Homo sapiens: one gene and its partners. The protein of the gene in region 1 purifies or fractionates together with the protein of each later gene. This does not show direct contact. Each region holds a gene or a part of one and is shown on either strand. Other genes may lie near its edges.

Region 1 (6,857 bases):
GCTGCCAGATAAATGGTGAGATGTGACCTGGTCCATCCTTTCAGGTCAGAAAAGTATCCTAAGGACAGGATGACTTAAGCGGTACCTGGCATGTTAGAGGTCACTCAGTGTGATAATTCACTAGCATTGTTCATGTTCCTCACCTCTGCCCCCTCAAGCTGTGGGTCTTTGAACGAGCCTGGTGGGAACAGAGCTAATCAGCTGGCAAGTCCAGATACAAGTGTGGTCAGCTTGAGACATGGAGGTTTGTTTACCGCTGTATCTTCAGCTTCTAAAATCATGAGAGGCACACAGTAGGCACTCAAGAAACAGTTGTTGAATGAATACATTTTTTTAAAAGCCATGGAGTTTCCTTTTCCTTTCAAATAAACGACATAAGGGTGTGGGGAGTAGAAGGGGGAGGTGAGTAAATGACAGGGTTCAAGGGACACCAGGGCCAGGCAAATGCAGCTGCCAGGCCCACCAGCCCAGGCTCCTCTGCAAAAGGGATGCAGCAAAGTCAACAGTGCATGTGCTCCCACTGGCAGGATGAGCAGGAGTGCGTGCACGCCTGGCTTACGGTTTAAGCTGCAGTTTACAGGAGAAGCAGGGCAAAGTGGAGACAGAGCCTGGGAAGAAAGGGAGATATCTGGGGAAGAATGAGGAGGGTGAGAGAAGAGGAAGAGCAGTGTGAGGGGGAAAAGGGAAGTGAAGAGTGTTAGAGGAGGAAAGTGAAGAGTGAAGGAAGGAGAGGAGGATGAGGGGGAGGAGGAAGAGGGGAGGCACAGGGAAAATAGGATGGGAAGTGAGGAAGAACTGTGTTGAATTAGAGAGGGAACCTGCTGTACTAGCCTGGATGGAATTAGCAGATCTCTGAGATCTTACTGCCACTCGGTGTTTCCCCGGGAGGAGACTGCATTAGGGAGAGGGTGTGGATTTGGGGGTGTTCCTAGGTGCCAGACCCTGGGCAGACCTCAATCTCCCAGGCACTGAGGCCTTTAGTTCCATGCTTTGCAAATAATGAGGACCCATCCCAGGACCAGAGAGAGCCCTCCGCAAGAAGGAGAAGCCTGAGTCAGCACAGGGGAAGGAAGAAGGCCTAGGAGGCTCAGATCCCTAGCTCTGCCCTTCTGTTTCCATCGTTTCGCCACAACAGCACCTGGCCAGGAAAGTGGGTCAGGCCACCCACATGTGGCTTTTTCTGGTAGCCACAGGGCCCAAAGGCAAGGGGGCTCCAGTGCCCAGTGCAGAGCCCACCTCTACCCTCCATGCCCAGTGCTCTTTTTTGAAGGGATCTTTAAGAAGCAGTGGGCAATGGGAGGAGCTCCTGGCCTTCTTATTCAGGGACAAAACGCTGGGCCAGAGCCCATCCTAGACTGGCGGGAAAGGGGGGCACGGAGCCTGCCATCGGCCTGGGTGCATGGGGAGACCTACATCTTCCCCTATGACAGTGACCAAACTGGCAGGGAGTCACCTCTACTGCCCTGACCTAGGGAGGCTGTTCTCCTCACCACCCTAGGTCCTGGAGTTCTCAAGCAGAGGGCCTGTCAGTCCATCTCTGGCAACTGAGCGCTGTGCCCAGCCCACCCCCTCCAACCCTGCCAGTCGCCCAGTTAGAAGCTGCGTTGGCTCCAACAGATGGGAGCTGCGGCAGCCTGAGGAACAGAGCACAAAGCCCAGCTGACATTTTCCTTCCTGTTCGTTTGGGTGGGGGAGGAAGGGTAGGGAGCACAGTGCTACCCCCGGGGCCCCTCCCCAGGTTCCGGGTCTCCTGCACCTCTTTAGCTTCTCCGCTCGGCCCCAGATGGAGCTCAGTTCCCTCACCCCGCGGCTCCTCGCCGGCTGGGCAGCCAGAGCCTGCGCCACCCTTTGCCAGCAGGACAGACGGCCCACCTGTGGCTGGCCAGCCCATCCTGTCTCCTGGGTCCTGCGGTGGGCTCAGAGCCACCCTTCCGTTTCCGCTTCCCCCTGACCGAGTCCCCAGGCTGAGCCCCAGGCCGGCCCATCCCCCACCCCAAAGGTCCCATCCCAGGCTGCGGTCGGACCCCAGCCAGCCGGCCCGGGAGGAGCCTAGCTCCTGGTTCCAGATACTTCAGACAGACCCAAGGCCACCTTGTCCCTCCGCACAGACTCGCGAGCTCCAAGGAGGAGAAAGTCCCCAGGCTCTGGAGCGCTTCCAGCCTGCCAGTCCGCCCGTGTCACGCCCTCCCTAACCTCACTGCCACCTCTCGGCTCCTCCACATCTCCAGGGCCCCACTCTACCCAGCAACAGTTTGGGGGAGGTTCTGGCCTCTCCAGGCGAAGGCCCAGGCGCCCTCTCCCTGGCCGCTTCTGGGCATTCTCCAGCCCTCCGTCCCTCTGCCCCTCGGCCGCCTCCCTCTCCCAAGTCTCCGGCTCCCCCGCAGGCGTCTCGGCGGAAGGCAGCGGCCGGCCCTCCTCTGGCCCCCACCCGGGTCAGGCGGAGCTGCGGTGCCGGGGCAGGAGCCAGGAGCCCTGAGGCGGCTGCTCCGGCCGCTCCCGCCGCGTACGCCTCGGCCACGCCAGCGACCTCGGTGTCCACGATTCCCCGGCGGCGGCGGCGCTGCCCAGGTCAGCCCCGAAGCTGCACACTCACCCCGTGGGCGCCGGGCACCGTCTGCCGTCTGCTGCCCGCGCGGCCGCGCTCCGCTCGCCTTCCGCCCGGGGCCGGGCTGGGGACGCTGGTCCGCGCCCTCCCGCCGCGCGCGCCGTCTGCACAGGCCGGGGAGGCTCGGCGGGCGCCCTCCCCAACGTGGAGTTATCCTGGGAGCGGCTCCAGGGCCCAGCCGGTGAGGGCGATGGCAGAATCCCAATCCGTCCCCACCCCCTCTCCGCGCCCTGGGCGCGTCGCGGCCGGAGGCTGGCGGGCGAGAGCCAGGCGCTCCTTGAGAGCGCCGCGCGTTCGCAGGTGCCCGGAGCAGGCCCTCGCGGCGCCCGGCACCCCCTCCACGCGCGCCCCTCTTCCCGGCTTCGCGCTCGCCCTCCTCACTCGCTTCTCCGCCGCTCTCCCAACCTCCCCAGCCCACTCCGGTCGCCTCCTCCCAGTCTGCATGCCACGCCAACCCCCTCCAGTCCCGCTGCCATTTTAACTCCTGAGTGGCCAGAGGCCCCCTCTACCTAACGCACACACACCCGGGAGGAAGGAGTTGGGTGGGGCCAGACGCTAACGCTTGAGCTGTCCTTGTGCCTAGAGACACAAGGCTTGGCTGAGAGAAGGGGCACAGCCCTTGGGTCCGGGAAGAGAAGGGTTGGCTTCTCTCATACTGCCTCGGACCCTCTTGCAAAGGCCAGGAGACGAATGGGGAATTCAGCAGCTTTGTGAGGACAGGTGCAGCTCACAGTCACAGCATGCACCTAAGATCACATTTTTGCTTTGCATGGTGCTACCCTCCCGAAGTTAACAGTGGACTAAGGAATGTAGTGGGGTGGGTGAGAATTTGTCACTGGGCCCAGGCACCTCTCACCCTAAAGAATGGAGTGGAAGACCCCTTTAGTTGTCATGCTTTTCCAGCATTGCATCCTGAGCCGTGCAGCTCTAGCATTCTGGAAGATTCCGTCCTGGCTCTCAATGAAGGAGGTCAATTTCAGTCAGGAACTGGCAGGCCCAGTTAGGGGTTTGGCTTCAGGGTTCCCCACTCTGCCAGCTGGACATCATGAAGACTGGGGGAGGAAAGTAAGAAGGTGCCAAAGGTGGGTGCTAGGCTGCTGCCTGGTGGCTTAGAAAAGCTGGGTGACTGCCACTAGAGGAGGGCAAAGGCCCAATGCCCAACACCCATGCCTTGGTGGGGACTTCAGCCTGGACCACTCAGAACAGACATCACAAACTCGGCTCCATGGCAGGCCACACCCTACTGATGGGTCTGGACCAGAGCCTGCAGAACCAACAACAGGGGAATGGATGAGGTGGAGGCCAAGGTGTGGAGTCCTGTGAGGAGTGGCTTCCCTGGGCTGCCTGCCGTCATCCAGTGCTTGAGCTTCTGGCCCTGTCTTTTCCAAGGGTACAGCCAGTGGTGACTGCCATGCCTGGTGGCTTTTGTGAAGTTGGCTTGAAGGTCTGAGTTCTGTATGCACAGAGGGGATTCTCACCTTCATATATTGAATGAGCACATATTAAGTTCCCACTAAACCACCCCCATGTTCCCACTCTCCACCCCTGCTACGGAGCATAATGGCCTCAAGGAGCTCAGAGTGACAGGTTGGAACTATATGAAACCAATTTTAATATTTCAAGACGATGGAAGTGCCATAGAAATACAAAAAGAAACCACCTTAATGGACTAGCATTATTCACAAAAGGTTTAACGGAGGAGCTGAGTCTCCAACTGAGCCTAGTTGGAGGGATAGGATTTGAACTGGAAGAGAATATGGGGACCAGCAAAGGCAGGAAAGTGGAGACAAGCAGAGTAGAATGGGTTGTCTGGAGGGTAGGGGGCAAGGGAGGAAAATTATAGAGCTACTATTAGATGCCAGCCTTTTCTCATCTCTGTCATCTTAGACTCTGAGTTGACTAATATCCCCTTTTAACAGACCGGGGGATGGAGGCCCAGATCGTTTAAGGCAGTAGCCCAAAATCTGTAGGCAGAATGTGAGACCTCATTTTCACAGTGCGACAATGCCACATTGAGTATACAGGGTGGGAGCAGCTGATGAAGGGCCCGAATTGCCAGGCTCAGCAGTTTATCTGTGGACCCATCCTCAGGTGATTTGGGATGAAAGAGGCAGGAGGATGGGAGACTATTGAGGTAGCTGTTGCAGGAATCTAGGAGGAGGGGAGCAGTGAGAATAGAGTAAATGCATGGGCCTTTGTAAAGAAGACTTGGCAGAACTGTAAGACTGACTGATTGAAAGGGGTCAAAACTTGACTCCAAGCTTTTAGCCTGAGCATTTGAGTCCCTTGTCGAGTCACTGGAGCCACCTTTCCAGTCTAAGGGCCAATGTCAATGTAGACAGGATGATGGTGAAAAGGAGGACATTTTAGGAGTCCTTTACCAACTGCACGACCGGAGAGAGCACTCATGTCAGCACCCCAGCTTCCCAATAACTATGCATACTCAAGTGTCTTATCTCCTAACCAGAGGGTAAGCTTCTGGAGCCTATGACTGTCTTACACCTTAATAAGATAAGACCAGTCCTTTATAGTAGATGTCCAATAACTGATTATTGAAATAATAAATGGGATAAATGCAAGTAACGTTCACTAAGTGGTTGATCCTGAGTGGCAAAGCCTGTGAGATGTACTAGATGAGGCATAAGGGAATTTCATCAGCTGTGAGAAGAAAATAGGGGAAGGCTTATCTTGAGCTGACTCCAAATGTCTTAGAACCCAATGAGATTGGAGAAAGAGTGTAGCTTTTAGAGCTGGAAAGATTTGGATTTGGAACTCTACTTGTCCATTTACTCTGTCTTGCTTCAGGCAAAGTATTGAACTTCCCCAGCTCTGATTCTTTCCTGAGTAACGATATTAATTCAAGTAATAGCAGTTAACATTTATTGAGCACCTACTACATGCAAGGCAAGGTGCTAGCACATTTATGCATCATCTCATCAAAAATTTGACCAATACTAGGACTCTAGTGATAGGAGAAAAACAAGGTTCAGTGTTTACCTAACCAGTATGTAACAGAGCTAAGACGGGAATCCAGGGTCCTCAAATGACAGAGTCCAAACACCAAGCCAAGTCTCCCTAGCACTTCTTTAGGATGAAGATAGCAATAATGGAATGGATTCATACTTATAGGTTGCTGTGAGATGTTACAGGGACTATATGGCTGGCATGAGCACAGTGGCTGGTGCATGGTATGTGGTTGACATTTTTCTCCCAACCCTGCTCCCATTGCTGCCATTCTGAGTCTCATACTTTCCTGGGAAAAGCTGCCCCAATTCACAGTCCTTTGGAAGCTCTTAGGTAATTACCCAGAGGATTTAATGGCCCTGTTATTGACCTTTCACCCTCCAAATTTAATTTCTGGGCTTGGCCATGCATTATTTCCCACCAGGAAGCCTGGAACTCCGTGACATCAGAGTGTCTTGGGAGAGGGATGCAGGGATTACATGCTGCTAGAAATGATCCTTAGCTCAATTCCAGGTGGCTCTCTCATATAGGGGTCAGGATATGGAACTGGTGGGGATGCTGTTTGTGTGGTGGGGGCTGTGAGGAGAGGATGGCTCCTACTGGTGCCTGGCACATGAGCCGAATCAGAGAAGGGAGGCCTGGGATGTGGCATGGGTCACTGAGGGTCCCTCAGTGGACCCTCCACACACACGACACTGTGTGTTGTGTGCAGCCTCTGCTCAGCCTCCTTGGGAGATATGGGGTGGGGTCTGGGGAGTCAATGAGGACTGTTGTCCCCCACCAGTGACCCAACTAGGCAGAGAGTAAGGCACTAGAGCAGTGGACCTTGGAATCACCTGGAGAGTGTGGGCCAATGCAGGTGCTGAGGTCCTACCCCAGAGTCAGATTCTGTAGTTCTCAGAGTCTGCATTTCAGATAAACCATCCAGGGGATTCTGATTCAGGTGGTTGGATGACCTCACTGTGAGACAGACTGGCCTGGGGGTGCCCATTGCTCTCTGACCGTCCCCTGCCCGGGCTCCCCATGTGCAGAGCCTTGTTCTCTGGGCTATTAGAGAACAAGTGAAGGCAGAGGCAGAGGCAGAGGTGAAGGGAATGAAGCTCAAGTTTTAGGGCTTCTCGACTTGCAGGATGGTGGGGAGAGGGTGGGCTATGAAAGCTGGGAACTGTAGAGTGTCCTAGGTGAAGAGGGGAAGCCAGTTTACGAACAGGAAGCATTTTTATGTAAGGATTTCTGGTAAATGGAATGAAGAAATGTCAGGAGAAAGGGACCCTGAATGTCCAAGGCT
Region 2 (7,027 bases), about 92 Mb from region 1:
TTCGAGACCAGCCTGGGCAACATACTGAGACCTCATCTCTATTAAAATAATAATAATAATAATTGTATTTGGCTTTGTAAATTTTCCTTTCCTAATTATGTATCATTAAAAATATTTGCTTTCTAGCTGGCCAGGCTCAGTGGCTCACGCCTGTAATCCTAGCACTTTGGGAAGCCGAGGCAGACAGATCACCTGAGGTCGGGAGTTCAAGACCAGCCTGGCCAACATGGTGAAACCCATCTCTACTAAAAATACAAAAATTAGCTGGGTGCAGTGGTACATGCCTGTTATTTCAGCTACTTGGGAGGCTGAGGAAGGAGAATCACTTGAACCCAGGAGGCAGAGGTCGCAGTGAGCTGAGATTGCACCACTGCACTCTAGCCTGGGCTACAGAGACTTCGTCTCAAAAAAAAAAAAAAATGCTGGGTATGGTGGCTCACGCCTGTAATCCCAGAACTTTAGGAGGCCAAGGTGGGCAGATCATGAGGTCAAGAGATTGAGACCATCCTGGCCAATATGGTGAAACCCCATCTCTACTAAAAATACAAAATATTAGCCAGGCATGGTGGTGCATGCCTGTAGTCCCAGCTACTCGGGAGGCTGAGGCAGGAGAATCATTTGAACTTGGAAGGAGAGGTTGCAGTGAGCCGAGATCGCACCACTGCACTCCAGCCTGGCAACAGACAAGATTCTGTCTCTAACTAAATAAATAAATAAATTTGCGATTACTCGACACAAATAGAGGAACAGTCTACAATAAAAGTATGACAATGGAATATCCATCCATGAAGAGCTGAGACTTTGATGCCTTTTTAAGTATACTGAAAAAAATTTTTTTTCCTACTTTTCTCTCTTGGCAGAGATGGCTGTTTCTGTTCTCTCCTTTATTAGTCATAAGATTCCCTGATTTGCTGGGCGTATATATATATATACACTGAGAAAATGATGAAAATTTCTAGCCTTCCTTATAGCTAGTAATGGCCATATGAAACAGACCTGACCAGTAGGAAGTAAGGTGAAATAGTATGTAACATTTCTGAGAATAGTCCTTGGCTTCTGTGGGGTGGAGTAGAGGGAAGTAGTGACCTTACCCCGGATTTCTTTCCTTCCTACTGATTGGAATGTGGATATGATGGCTGAAGCAAGAGCAACAGTCTTACACGACAAAGTAAAAACTACATTTGGAGATGGCAGGCTAACAAAATAGAAGGGGTCTGGGTATCTGATGATTATTGTTTTCCATACTAGCCATGGACTAACTATATTAACATGAAAGACAAATTTCTGTGTCTTGGTCCATTTGGACTGCTATAACAAAATATCACAAACTGCGTAGATTATAAACAGTATAAATTTATTTTTAACAGTTCTGGAGGCTGGGAAGTCTATGACCAAGGTACCAACAAATTTGGTGTCTGGTGAGGGTCTGCTTTCTGGTTCACAGACGGCGCCTTCTCGTGGTGTCCTCCCACGGTAGAAGTGGCAAGCAGCTCTCTGGGGTCTCTCATAAGGGCATTCATCACATCCCTGAGGGCACTGCCCTCATGACCTGATCACCTCCCAAAGACCCTACCTCGTAACATCACATTGGTGATTAGAATTTTGGGGGAAACACAAACATGCACACCACAGCACTCTGCTGTTTTGAGTTTTCTATCTCCCAGAGCCAAACTCAATCTTAAATACACAGCTCTGAAAACACATTAGAAAAGTAGTCACCTGACAAATTCTGTCTGCTGGTTTCATTTTCTCTGTTCCTCGAAGGAGAACCTGGTTCTGAAATGCTGCTCTCTGTTCCTCCCATCAGTGGTTGCAAATGGCTTACAGATACTTGCTCAATAAAAGATGTGCCATGCTTATGGAAGTACCACCATTCAAATATCTATGACAAACAGAAAATATCCTGCACTTAGAATCGATCAGCAGATACATGAGCTCAAATTAAAACATTCTCTCAAGATGTCCTGTTCAATTCAGCATTTTAAATGCACTCTCCTTTCAAAAAGAAAAAAACATACAAACACAAGATTCACCAATAACATGTCACGTAAAAGTGAAATACATTTTTTATAGTTCCGTCATAAAATTTAGACAAGCTTAAGCAAAACTAGGCATATGTAATAAAGCATTAAAAACAGAAAGAAGCATTTTAATCTATAAGTAATTTAACTCTGTTAAGTTACATTGTCATTTTATTCTATCTGCAGCATAAACAGTTTTCAAATAATAAGCATAGTGGATGAACAGACTAGACTAGCATCAGCATGCCCATGTTTTAACTCCCAAATCAGTCATTTATTAGCTGTGTGCTGTGGGCAAGTCACTTAATCTCTTAATATCTCAGAGCCTCAGCTAAATGTGGTTAACAAGAATTATAAGAAAGTGCTTTCTGAAGCAAAAAGTACTACTCTGGTATTTGGCAAAATTATTAATAAAGGTTAAGGTCAAGTTGATTCCCATATTGAACCATTTAAAAATCAGGATATTCATTTCTTTCTATTTCCATGGTTTATCACTGATATAAAAAGAGAAACCAGGCCAGACACGGTGGTTCACGTCTGTAATTCCAGCACTTTGGGAGGCCAAGAAGTCCCAAAAGAGGGATCCTCAAGAAGAATCGCTTGAGCCCAAGAATTCTAGACCAGCCTGGACAAAACAGTGAGACCTCATCTCTACAGAAAAATATAAAAATAAAATATTAGCTGGGTGAGGTGGTGCATGCCTGCAGTTCCAGCTACTCAGGAAGTTGAAGTGGGAGGATCTCTTGAGCCCAAGGAGGTCAAGGCTGCAGTGAGCTGAGATTGCACCACTGCCCTCCAGCCTGGGCAATAGAGTGAGACCCTGTCTCAAAAAAAAAAAAAAAAAAAAAAAAAGTCACCTGACAGACTAGTCTTCTGCCAAATGTAGTGGATACATGTATTACTTTAAAGAATAAACAAAGCATATGCACAACTAAGAGATTTTAATCTTTTTATTTCCTTTTTTTAAAATGTTTTGAGATAGGATCCCACTGTCACCAGGCTGGAGTACAGTGGCATGATCACAGCTCACTGAAACCTTGACCTCCCTGGGCTCAGGTGATCATCCCACCTCAGCCTCCCGTGTAGCTAGGACTACAGGCATGTGCCACCATGCCCAGCTAATTTTTATGTTTTTTGTAGGGACAAGGTTTTGCCATGTTGCCCAGGCTGGTCTCAAATTCCTGGGCTTAAGCGCTCTGCCCTCCTTGGCCTCACAAAGTGCTAGGATTATGGGTGTAAGCTACCATGACCGGCCAGATTATAATATTTTTGAAAACTATTTTACTATGACCACAAACAGAACCCATCACAAAAAAATCAGCATTTTCAAATCTGTAGGAATGTTATTTTTTTGCTTCAGTAAATAACAGAACAAATATGCTACATAGGTGCCAAAAGTATAGTCATGTTGGGGCCCGCTGACTACATGCCACAACGTTTATAGGAAAGTGTGAGAAAATCATGGTGCAGCATTTTTTCTATCATGTCACTAATGTTTTATGCTCAGTCTAAAATGGTATCTCTTTCTGCTCACTCTTAAGTTAGCAAGAATTACCACCAAATGAGGCCATGGTTTGACTTCTACCATATATTTTACTAAGAAGTGAGATAAAACTTCTTTACACAAGCAGAAACTGTTCATGTGACAGAAAAGGTTTATATTGAATAAATCTTGGCTAAGAAAATTGGATAGGGCCAGGCACGGTGGCTCATGCCTATAATCCCAACACTTTGGGAGGCTGAGGTGGGAGGATCACTTGAGGCTGGGAATTTGAGATTAACCTGGACAACATAGTGAGACCCCATCTCTACAAAACATAAAAAAAATGAGCCAGGTGTGAGGGTGTGTGCCTGTAGTCCCAGCTACTTTGGAGGCTGAGGTGGGAGGATTGCTTGAGTTCAGCAGGTCAAGGCTGCTGTGAGCTGTGATTGTACCACTTCACTCCAGCCTGGGTGACAGAGTAAAACACTGTTTCGAAAAAAAAAAAGAGAAGATAAGTACCATCAAGGGCAACAACAACACACTTCCCTTCACCATACAAAGTGCAGGTGGGTTTTCTAATGAATGAGTATGAAGTTAGGGGCTTTTTTCAACTTTTGAGTCAACTTTTTAACACAAATGAACAATGGTAATAATAACTGCAAATACTTATCAAAAGCTTTCTATGAGCCACACATTATGCCAATCCTTGACATGCATTATGTCATTTAATTTTTATAACAACTGATTTTAGAGATGAGGACACACATTCCAAATTTAAATAACAGTTCACATCACTGGTAACTGGCAGAGCTGGGATTCTTATTCAGGTTTGCCTGACTTCGGAGCTTCCAACCATTACACCAGACTGATTCATAAATATATCTCTTTATACATGTATATGTGATTATATGTATATACAAGTTTGTTAAATCCAGGTGGTAAAAGAAATTATAAACACAACAACCTTTGCTAATAAAAACCCATCAACATTGCAAGGGTAATAATACAGTTTAACCTTTAAAATGTTACTTGAATTTCCTAATTTGTGTATATTTAAAATGCGGTTTTATAAAGAGTAACAAAAGGTTTTTTTGGGTTTTTGTTGTTGTTGTTTTGTTGTTGAGACAAGGTCCACTCTGTTGCCCGGGCTGGAGTGCAGTAGCATGATCACAGCTCACCACAGCCACGATTTCCTGGGCTCAAGCAATCCTCCCACCTCAGTCTCTGAAGTAGCTGGGACTACAGGAATGCGCCACCACAACGCGCTAAATTTTTAAAATTTTATACAGAGACCAGATCTTGTTCATTTGTCCAGGCTGCTCTTGAACTCCTGGCCACAAGCAATCCTCCTGCCTCAGCCTCCCACAGTGTTGGCAGTACAGACACGAGACACCACACCTGGCCACAAAAAGTTTTTTACAAGGTTTTAGACATCATATATATAAGTTATCCCCCTCTTATAAATGAGGAAATTATAGCTTAGACAGTTTATGTAGCTTGCCCAAAATTATCAGCTAGTAAGTGGCAGAGTTAAGATTCAAAATTTTATCTTCTGGTTCCCAAACCAGAGCTTTTTCCACTATATCAGCTGCTTAATATTGATAGTTTCTTTAAAACAAACAAACAAAAACCATATTAAATAGAGACAGGGTCTTGTTGTTGCCCAGGCTGGTCTCAAACTTCTGGCATTAAGGGATTCTCCCACTCCATCCTCCCAAAGTGTTGGGATTACAGGTGTAAGCCACCGTGCCTGGCTTAAAGACAGTTTATCGTCTTTACTTAGACTTTTGTATGCTATGGACTAAACATGCTAAAATATGCTTATGTTAAATTATGAGGCTTATATTAACATGTAGTTTTAATCCTGAATTCCTCAATAGCTTCTATTTTTTTTAGCCAAGAGAAAAATCTCGTTCTTGTTTGGCATTTCACTTTAACAAAATGGTCTGTATTTAGTCCCTATTTAAAAAAATAGATCCAATACAAATGCTATTTCTACTACAGCTGGAGAGCACCACCTAGAGATAAAAAAAAGAACAGGCTGGGCATGGTGGTTCACGCCTGGAACCTTAGCACTTTGGGAGGCCGAGGAGAATGGATCGTTTATGCCCAAGCGTCTGAGACTACCCTGAACAACACAGTGAGACTCTGTCTCTACAAAAAATAAATAAAAATTTAAAGGGAAGAGAAAAATTTATTGGCTATGCATGGCATAAAACTTCTTAAGATTTTTATCTGCAGCAGTATTGTTCCAAAGTGTACACTAGTAAACATGACATCCTAGGGATGTTAACGTGAATTATAAAAAATATTTTATTTTTTTTAAATTAAAAATATCTTCTTCAAGGAAAAGTTGAATTAAAGTTAAACAGTTTTGTTGTTTTTGTTTTTTGAAACAGAGTCTTGCTCTGTCACTCAGGTTAGAGTGCAGTGGCACCATCTTGGCTCACTGTAACCTCTCCCTCCAGGGTTCAAGTGATCCTCCCACCTTGGCCTCTCCAGTAGCTGGGACTATAGGTGCGCCACACACGCCTAATTTTTGTATTTTTTTGAAGAGACAGGGTTTTTCCATGTTTCCCAGGCTGGTCTCGAACTCTATCACCCCACCTCGGTCTCCCAAAGTGCTAGGATTACAGGTATGAACCACTGTATCAGGCCAAACAGGTTTCTTAATTGTGAGAATTCTCAGAATAATGGCCAAAATTCATTAAGTGTACATTCTGAACCAGCTATCATGTTATAAACTTACAACATTATCTGATTTACTCTTCATAATCCTATAAAGTTCATGCTATTAACTGCCAGTTAACAGATGAGGAAACTGGGGCTTGAAAAAACTGTAAGTTGAATTCATGACACATAAATTTTAGTCTTCCCAATGTTGCCAATATTAAAATGCTGTAGTCAGACATGGTGGCACATGCCTGTAATCCCAGCTACTAGGGAGGCTGAGACGGGAGGATGGCTTGAGCCCAGGAGTTAAGGCCACAGTGTGCTATAATGGTGCCTGTGAATATCGACTGTACTCTGGCCTGGGCAACGTAGTGAGACTCCATCTCAATTTTTTTTTAATGGGCAAATTTTATATAAAAACTGTATGTCCAGGTTCTACTTATTTATTCATTCATTTTTGAGAAAGGGTTTCTCTCTGTCGCCCAGGCTGGAGTGCAGTGGCAAGATCTTGGTTCACTGTAACCTCCACCTCCCAAGTTCAAGAGATTCTTATGCCTCAGCCTTCCGAGTAGCTGGGACTACAGGCACATACCACCATACCCAGTTATTTTTTGTATTTTAGTAGACGGAGTTTCATCATGTTGGCCAGGCTGTTCTTGAACTCCTGGCCTCAAGTGATCTGCCTGCTTCAGGCTCCCAAAGTGCTGGGATTATAGGTGTTAGCCACCACGTCCGGCCTGTCTGGGTTCTCTTTAAATCATTTGAAAAATTGAAAAACCTGGTAATACTAGTTCCAAGTCTATATGGCAACAATTAGCTTTAGCCTCTTTTAGAAGGGGCATGCACTGTC
Region 3 (7,027 bases), on another chromosome or scaffold:
ACACCTTAGACCAATTATATTAGGACCTCTAAGGGTAAGATCCAGGCTTCAGAAATTTTTAAAACTCCCAGGTTGCGTCCAGTGTGCAACCAAGGCTGAGAACTACTGCCTTAAAGAGAAAGCATTAAACCTAAAAAGAAGGGTGAAAGATAGTAACCAACTTGTAAACAGATTGTACAGGATAAACTTGAGGCCCAGCTCCTTGATAGACCTCATGTTTTAGTGTAACATTTAATAATCTCATTCTGGATTGTTTAAAAACAAATCTTAATTTGTTTGTGTCTATACTGAGTGGACAAGACTTTAGAAATTAAAGTGCAGTCTAGTTTCAGTATTTTATTATTCCAAAAACACATGACACATTTCAGTAGGAAATTCACTGCCTGCTTAACAAATTGAAATTCTTTGCAATAAAAATGTTTAGAAACTGAAAACACTGTATGTAATTGAACACTGACTGGTTGAACTATATTGTAGTAATGACACATTTTATTACTACCTCCAGAATTTAATTGTCATATAAGCTAACTCTTGTAATACTCAATGCAGCGAATTGAACCGAAACAAGATTAAAAATGTAGATGGACTGACATTCCAAGGCCTTGGTGCTCTGAAGTCTCTGAAAATGCAAAGAAATGGAGTAACGAAACTTATGGATGGAGCTTTTTGGGGGCTGAGCAACATGGAAATTTTGTAAGTGTGGGTTATCACAGTTCCTACTGAGGTAGTATGATCATAGAATGCTCAGTGTACATTCAGCAGGTCTTATGTGAAATCCTATGTTAAAATCTCATCATCCACAATCTTATTTATAAGTCAGTATTCAGTTTTGATTCAGGTAATGTGATCGATAATTTATAAGTACCTAAATTTAGTATAGTATAAACTATATAGTATTTTTTTGCTGACGTCTTCATATAACAAAAGCTAAACATCTAATAACAATAGGAATCTGTAATAGGTTGTAATCATATGTCCCCTTTGAAGAGACTAGATAATGAAGTTTTGATCCTGCTTTTGATTCTTACTGTAAATGTAGGCAGCTGGACCATAACAACCTAACAGAGATTACCAAAGGCTGGCTTTACGGCTTGCTGATGCTGCAGGAACTTCATCTCAGCCAAAATGCCATCAACAGGATCAGCCCTGATGCCTGGGAGTTCTGCCAGAAGCTCAGTGAGCTGTGAGTTGCCTTTTATTTATTCTCCTCAGGTTTGAGAGCAGGGATCATGCCAGGGCATGAGCTTCTTACCACTGATCTGTGAAATTTTCATAACAAAGTTTCCAAGGTGACAGCTTTTTTCACATGCAACCTAGTCTTATTTTTGTTGTGATAAGTTGAAGCCAGTTCTACTGTTGCAGTTCTATGTCACGTTGGCAAAAGCAATGATGGTTATTTTCAAGTAAAGAGAACGTATTTTTTTAATTACTGATATTAGAAATATTTACTTGGATATTATTAAGGCAGAATTTAAAAATAAGGATTAGTGTAGCTCATACAGTACCTGTCTTTTGGAAAACAAATCATTGTGTTGAATTGAAAAATAAAAGCTATTGCTTTTCTCTTTTTTCTTTACAGGGACCTAACTTTCAATCACTTATCAAGGTTAGATGATTCAAGCTTCCTTGGCCTAAGCTTACTAAATACACTGCACATTGGGAACAACAGAGTCAGCTACATTGCTGATTGTGCCTTCCGGGGGCTTTCCAGTTTAAAGACTTTGTAAGTTACACGTTTTGCTGTCAGTACTCGAACGTAATTGGTTCCTAAATATGCCCACTTTTCTCCTAGCAGATTTCCTTTGTTGTCAAGGAAATGCATACAGCCTCAGAAGTAGTATCTTAATCTTTCCCAGATCAGTTTGATTACAATGGATCCATTTCATCCATATGTGTTTCGTATAGGGATTAAAAAGGACAGTGATCAGTTTGTTTTGGTGATTACAGTGAACCTTCTCAGGATCTCCAGGAAATTGGTAACTGCTTAAGAGGGAAACAATTTTAAGTCCACTAAGTTTTTCTTTGTAAAATACAGATTAAAAATTACTTAGAGCAAAAAGGTCTACAAAGGGCAAGGAAGATACTGTTTATCATGCCAGTTATATCCTCAACCTGATCTCTGTCCTAAGAGAAAGAAAAGGGAGTTAAATTAATTGACCTTTGAAAAATTTCTCAAATGGTAATTTAAGGTTGTGCAATGGGCTTTTGATTTTTGCTCTGTCAGAAACTTTTGCTCTGTTCGCTATTTGAAGCATTACGTAATTGAAAGACATACTGTATGCTTTGGCGAACTTCTGCATGCGTGGTTGGAAGAGTGGTTTTAAAGTTTAATGTATTTTTCAGACTGTTCGGATCATTCAGAATGTAGTCATTTTGATAGAGGAATTAATAGGGCCAGTGTCAGCTTTTTCGGATTTTAGGGAAAAACTTAAAATGTTGTTGAGGGAATCAGGCAGGGTGTAAGAGGTAAGTTGGAGAAAAAGAGTTTTCTATTATTTTGAGAGAGGTGGAGATAATGTGGGGAATTATGAGAAATTTTTTACAAATGATATGCCACCTGGGTGGTGATACTAGGCTTTCTGAGCTTATCACTCTAAAGGGAATGCTTCTTTTAAAATTAGGGATCTGAAGAACAATGAAATTTCCTGGACTATTGAAGACATGAATGGTGCTTTCTCTGGGCTTGACAAACTGAGGCGACTGTGAGTATGAATTGCCTCATAATTTAGCTCACTCTTTGATTTAAAAATTTTGTCTTCACTGAAGTCAGCTATACAAGTTGACATCATGAAGAGATGAGAAATCAGTGCTTAATCTGGTTACCACCCTTGATCCTCTCCCCAAATGCCTGCTGTTGCGCAAGATGTATATTATTAACTTTTTCTTCCTTAGGTGAAAGTGTTTTATTCAACATTTTAGTATGTGTAATTTACTTTAATATCCTCATAATAATTTTCATCTATGTTGAGGGCTTACACTTTTGGAATTATCATTGCGTAAAAGTTAGTGCAGGCACTTCCACATCTTGAAATCCTCAATGTTGTACTGTCCCCGTAGGAATTTTTTTAATGAAGTAATCTAGTAGCCACTGATAATGCTGTGGTAGGTTACAAGCAAAACAGGATGAAAACATCTTATAATTAACCATAAAATGGTCTTGCAGATGGTCAAATTACATGTGTTAAGCCAGCAGTATTCAAATTCAGCTCCCTATAGTCCCAAACTCCTATGGATGGAAGGTATCCACAGAGAAGGAGAGGAAGGAGAAAACGTTCACTATTATCTGCTTTGTTAGTGTTCTGAGACAGTTTACTTGAAATAAAGTCTCTACCTATTCCTAAAAGGACTCTGAAAAACAGTGATTTAACTTAATCAGCAGAGTGACTTACTGAATACCTATTTTTGTTGGGCTCTTTGTTGAATGCTTCAAAAACCATGTTCGACTACATTATTGAAATAGATGGCATGGACACATTTTTACAGGATATATTGTTTAATTGAAGAAAATGGAATTGCTCACACATAATTTAAAAAGCAGTTCTGTTTATGAGAGTTCCACCCCAAAATGGCTTTTTAAATTAAGTGCTCCAATGTAATTTTTTTCCCCAGGATACTCCAAGGAAATCGGATCCGTTCTATTACTAAAAAAGCCTTCACTGGTTTGGATGCATTGGAGCATCTGTGAGTAGCTAGAATTTAGTTACCCTAAAAGAGAATCTCTAAGATGGTTTTTACTTATGTGTCATGAAAGATAAAACAAACTGGAATGTAATTTTGTTGGCATCCTTCCGGTTCCATAAAATATATTTAAACATCTCCCTATCTTTCTATTTCTTTCTCTGTCTACCTACTTACCTACCTACCTATATAGAAGTATACAGGTGTATGCTTTCCTTTGTATTTAAGAACAAAAGCTATATCTCCTTAATGGGTTTTTAATTGTTTTTCTCAAACAGTGATTATTTAATTAAAAAAAAAACAAACTACTAGGTGTAGTTCATCCACTATATATCAGGCATTGTACCACATATTCACATATATTCTCATTTAATTCTTAGTCAGAATACAATTCAATAGCTATTATTATCTTTATTGTTAAGCGGAGGTTCTAAGAGTTTATTGATTCCACTGGACAGTTAAAGGAGATGACTTGGCTTTTAAAGAACAAAGACAATGTTCCACAATCCTTAAGAGTGACATAGGAGAGTTTTAGCACTACTTTGAGAATTGTTGGTCTCTTATTGTTGTTTAATTATGAAACATACAACCCCCCCTTACCATTGTTCTCTTTTTTGTTGTTTTCTTTTGTTTCGTCTTGACCCACCAGTTAGTAGCTGTCAGAAGCAGGACGCAACCCAGAGCTGCCCCGACTTGCACAGTGTCCCTGCATCACACTAGCTCTTGCCTGTACAATCTCTGCCGCTACTCCCAGTAGCTCCTAGTAACTCCTGGCACACATTTCTGAAATGTCATTTAGGGGCTCAGGAATTTTCAGCCACTAAGAGAGGAAAGCTAGCTAACATTGATAGGAATCAAAACTTGCATGTTTTAACTAAGGGAACCAACCAGCTGCTTATAACCATGGATGTATGTTTTACGCTTGTACAGTAAAAGTACAAAGTAATGTATAATATCGACTCTGACTGTTAAGGAATGCTTGTATCCAGAAGTTTTAATATGTATTAACCAGGACAAAAGAAGTTACAATTTAAAATACATATTGGGTTCTCCTATGTGTGCTGTGTATTGAGAGTGAAGATTTAGCTGTTATCTGTAAACCACTGTGTTGTCACCTTCTGACTGCACCAGTTCCTCTGAGGGAGACTTGGATCGTGAGCCACCCAGACAGTGAGTGCGGCAGTTCAAATTATAGTAGAATGATTCTGCAAAGCTGAGTTTTGGAAGGGCAGACCAACATTGCAGTATTTATTGAAACCGATTATTTTGAAAAGAAAACTAGCCAAAAGGGTTTGTCATTTGGCCCATTCCGTTTCTGGGAACGTGGAATTAGTGGATCAGTGGAGTATTAATCTCTGCTTCAGTTTTCTTAAATCTTCCTTGATTGCCCCAGCCTCTTCGTCTAGCCATGTCTGGTCCCTTCTTTCTTTGTCTTCTCTTCCCACTTGTCTCACTCAATATTCCCTTTGTATACTGTGACCCCTGTAAAGAAAAACAGAGTGGTAATCATTGTGGTGAATACTTTAATGCAGAGTGCTTATAAGTCTCTGTATAAAGAGAATTAATCCAGAATATGTGCTCATTTTATGAATTTCCTGCCTGAAGTATTGGTTTTAACAAGTATATCTTGTCTGAACATCTTACTGCGTTTATGTTAGTGAGCTGTGGGTGACAGAATTAGGTTAATGGTTAAAAGCACAGGTTTTGGAATTGAAAATAATTGTTTCAACCCTTACCTTCCCCTTTCGTGCTGAGCTAAGTAGTAATACCATCATATTTTGGGTTGTTGTAGGAATAAATGCAGTAACACTTGTAAATCACTTAACTGAGTGCATATCTTCAAAAATACTGTGTAAATGTTTTATAAAAGCATAATTATTTTTATTTTTTATTTGTATATTTTATTTGTATATTTAGAAGTTTCCAATAGTTGCTAATTTGAATAAAGAGTAATAGAATGAAATAATAGAACAGCATGGGCCCTAATGAGTCAAATAATCTTTAAGTGATGACAGAAAGTGAATCTTTTTCACTAAAACAAAACCTATCTGTGATACAAATGCCCTGGGTCTTCAGCACAAGCTTTGCAGTGGATTCTTCTGGGGCTGCCCCAGTCATGTATTTGACACATAGAGGGAGTATTTGTTTGGCAAATGGGGTGGGCAGTGGGGGCCCAAACTTTGTCCAAAAGCACGAAATGATGGTAGTTTGCTCTGATGCATTTGATTTGGTGATTTTTCAGAGACCTGAGTGACAACGCAATCATGTCTTTACAAGGCAATGCATTTTCACAAATGAAGAAACTGCAACAATTGTAAGCTTTTCTTTTCCTTCTAGGAGTCTGAAAGTATAGAGGGGAAAACTGTCATATGGTGTGGCATCCTGGATTATGTATCTATAAAAAGTGCCTGGCACATTCTTAACATTACTTAATTTTTATACTAGGCAACAGAAAAGGAGTTTATTTGTTCTTTTTGTTGAAATGAGTTTTTCTTTCTATTTTAAATTCGCAACTTTGTGGGACCAAATATAGTACAGTCACCCAATATAGTAGTAATTTTTTCAGTTGTAAGGAACTTTTGATAAATCAACACTTCTGTCTCAGTAGGACAGTAAGAACAACAGAAAATCATGCTAGATACATTTCTTGTATTTTAAAATGGACTGTGGGATACTTATTCCATGGGATGTGTGTATTCAGTTTCCAAATTCATTGCTTTGTTAATATTTACTTGGGTTTAGTTTACTTGTAGAAATCTGCATTTCATACAGAACAAATTGAATGTAATTACTCTCCTCAGGCATTTAAATACATCAAGCCTTTTGTGCGATTGCCAGCTAAAATGGCTCCCACAGTGGGTGGCGGAAAACAACTTTCAGAGCTTTGTAAATGCCAGTTGTGCCCATCCTCAGCTGCTAAAAGGAAGAAGCATTTTTGCTGTTAGCCCAGATGGCTTTGTGTGTGGTGAGTATAAGTATTGCCCTTGCCTTTTATTTATTCTTCTTTTTTCCCCCTCCCATTTATCCAAATAATGGTTTTGAATAGATTTATGATCTCTTTATAAAGCTTTTATTTCTGCTGAGGTAGAGGAAAATGGGTCTATAGTTTGCTGATTATTTTAATTTCACAGATGGGAAAGAGAGTTTTCTAAAATTGCTTCATCTTTGTTTTGGCATCAGGATGGTGCGGTGGAATGAGAATGAAATTGGATCTTGGGAGAATGGAAGGGTAATCTCAGCCCTTCTACTTAACTTAAATTCCCTAAATATTAGTCTCTGCATCCATGAAATGGGGACTCTCCTTTCTTCTCTTCCCAACTCTGAGGCTTGTTGGGAGGTTTACATGAAA

Evidence for each region. Proteins that work in one complex are often made in the same cells at the same time.
Region 2: the proteins of LRRN2 (region 1) and ST7L purify together in Homo sapiens (affinity purification with mass spectrometry; 2 studies listed by BioGRID and IntAct, with this or other methods). This does not show direct contact.
Region 3: the proteins of LRRN2 (region 1) and LRIG3 purify together in Homo sapiens (co-immunoprecipitation; 3 studies listed by BioGRID and IntAct, with this or other methods). This does not show direct contact.

The regions. Positions count from the first base shown.
Region 1 is NC_000001.11:204,682,727-204,689,583, forward strand, and holds the start of LRRN2 (leucine-rich repeat neuronal protein 2 precursor), read right to left. Parts: upstream 3,013-6,857; 5' UTR 2,594-3,012; intron 272-2,593; exon of another isoform or gene 144-271; intron 1-143.
Region 2 is NC_000001.11:112,609,122-112,616,148, forward strand, and holds part of ST7L (suppressor of tumorigenicity 7 protein-like), read right to left. Parts: intron 1,883-7,027; coding exon 1,720-1,882; intron 1-1,719.
Region 3 is NC_000012.12:58,882,485-58,889,511, reverse strand, and holds part of LRIG3 (leucine-rich repeats and immunoglobulin-like domains protein 3 isoform 2 precursor), read left to right. Parts: intron 1-549; coding exon 550-693; intron 694-1,039; coding exon 1,040-1,183; intron 1,184-1,579; coding exon 1,580-1,723; intron 1,724-2,621; coding exon 2,622-2,702; intron 2,703-3,609; coding exon 3,610-3,681; intron 3,682-5,920; coding exon 5,921-5,992; intron 5,993-6,479; coding exon 6,480-6,643; intron 6,644-7,027. UniProt on the Homo sapiens protein: May play a role in craniofacial and inner ear morphogenesis during embryonic development. May act within the otic vesicle epithelium to control formation of the lateral semicircular canal in the inner ear, possibly by restricting the expression of NTN1.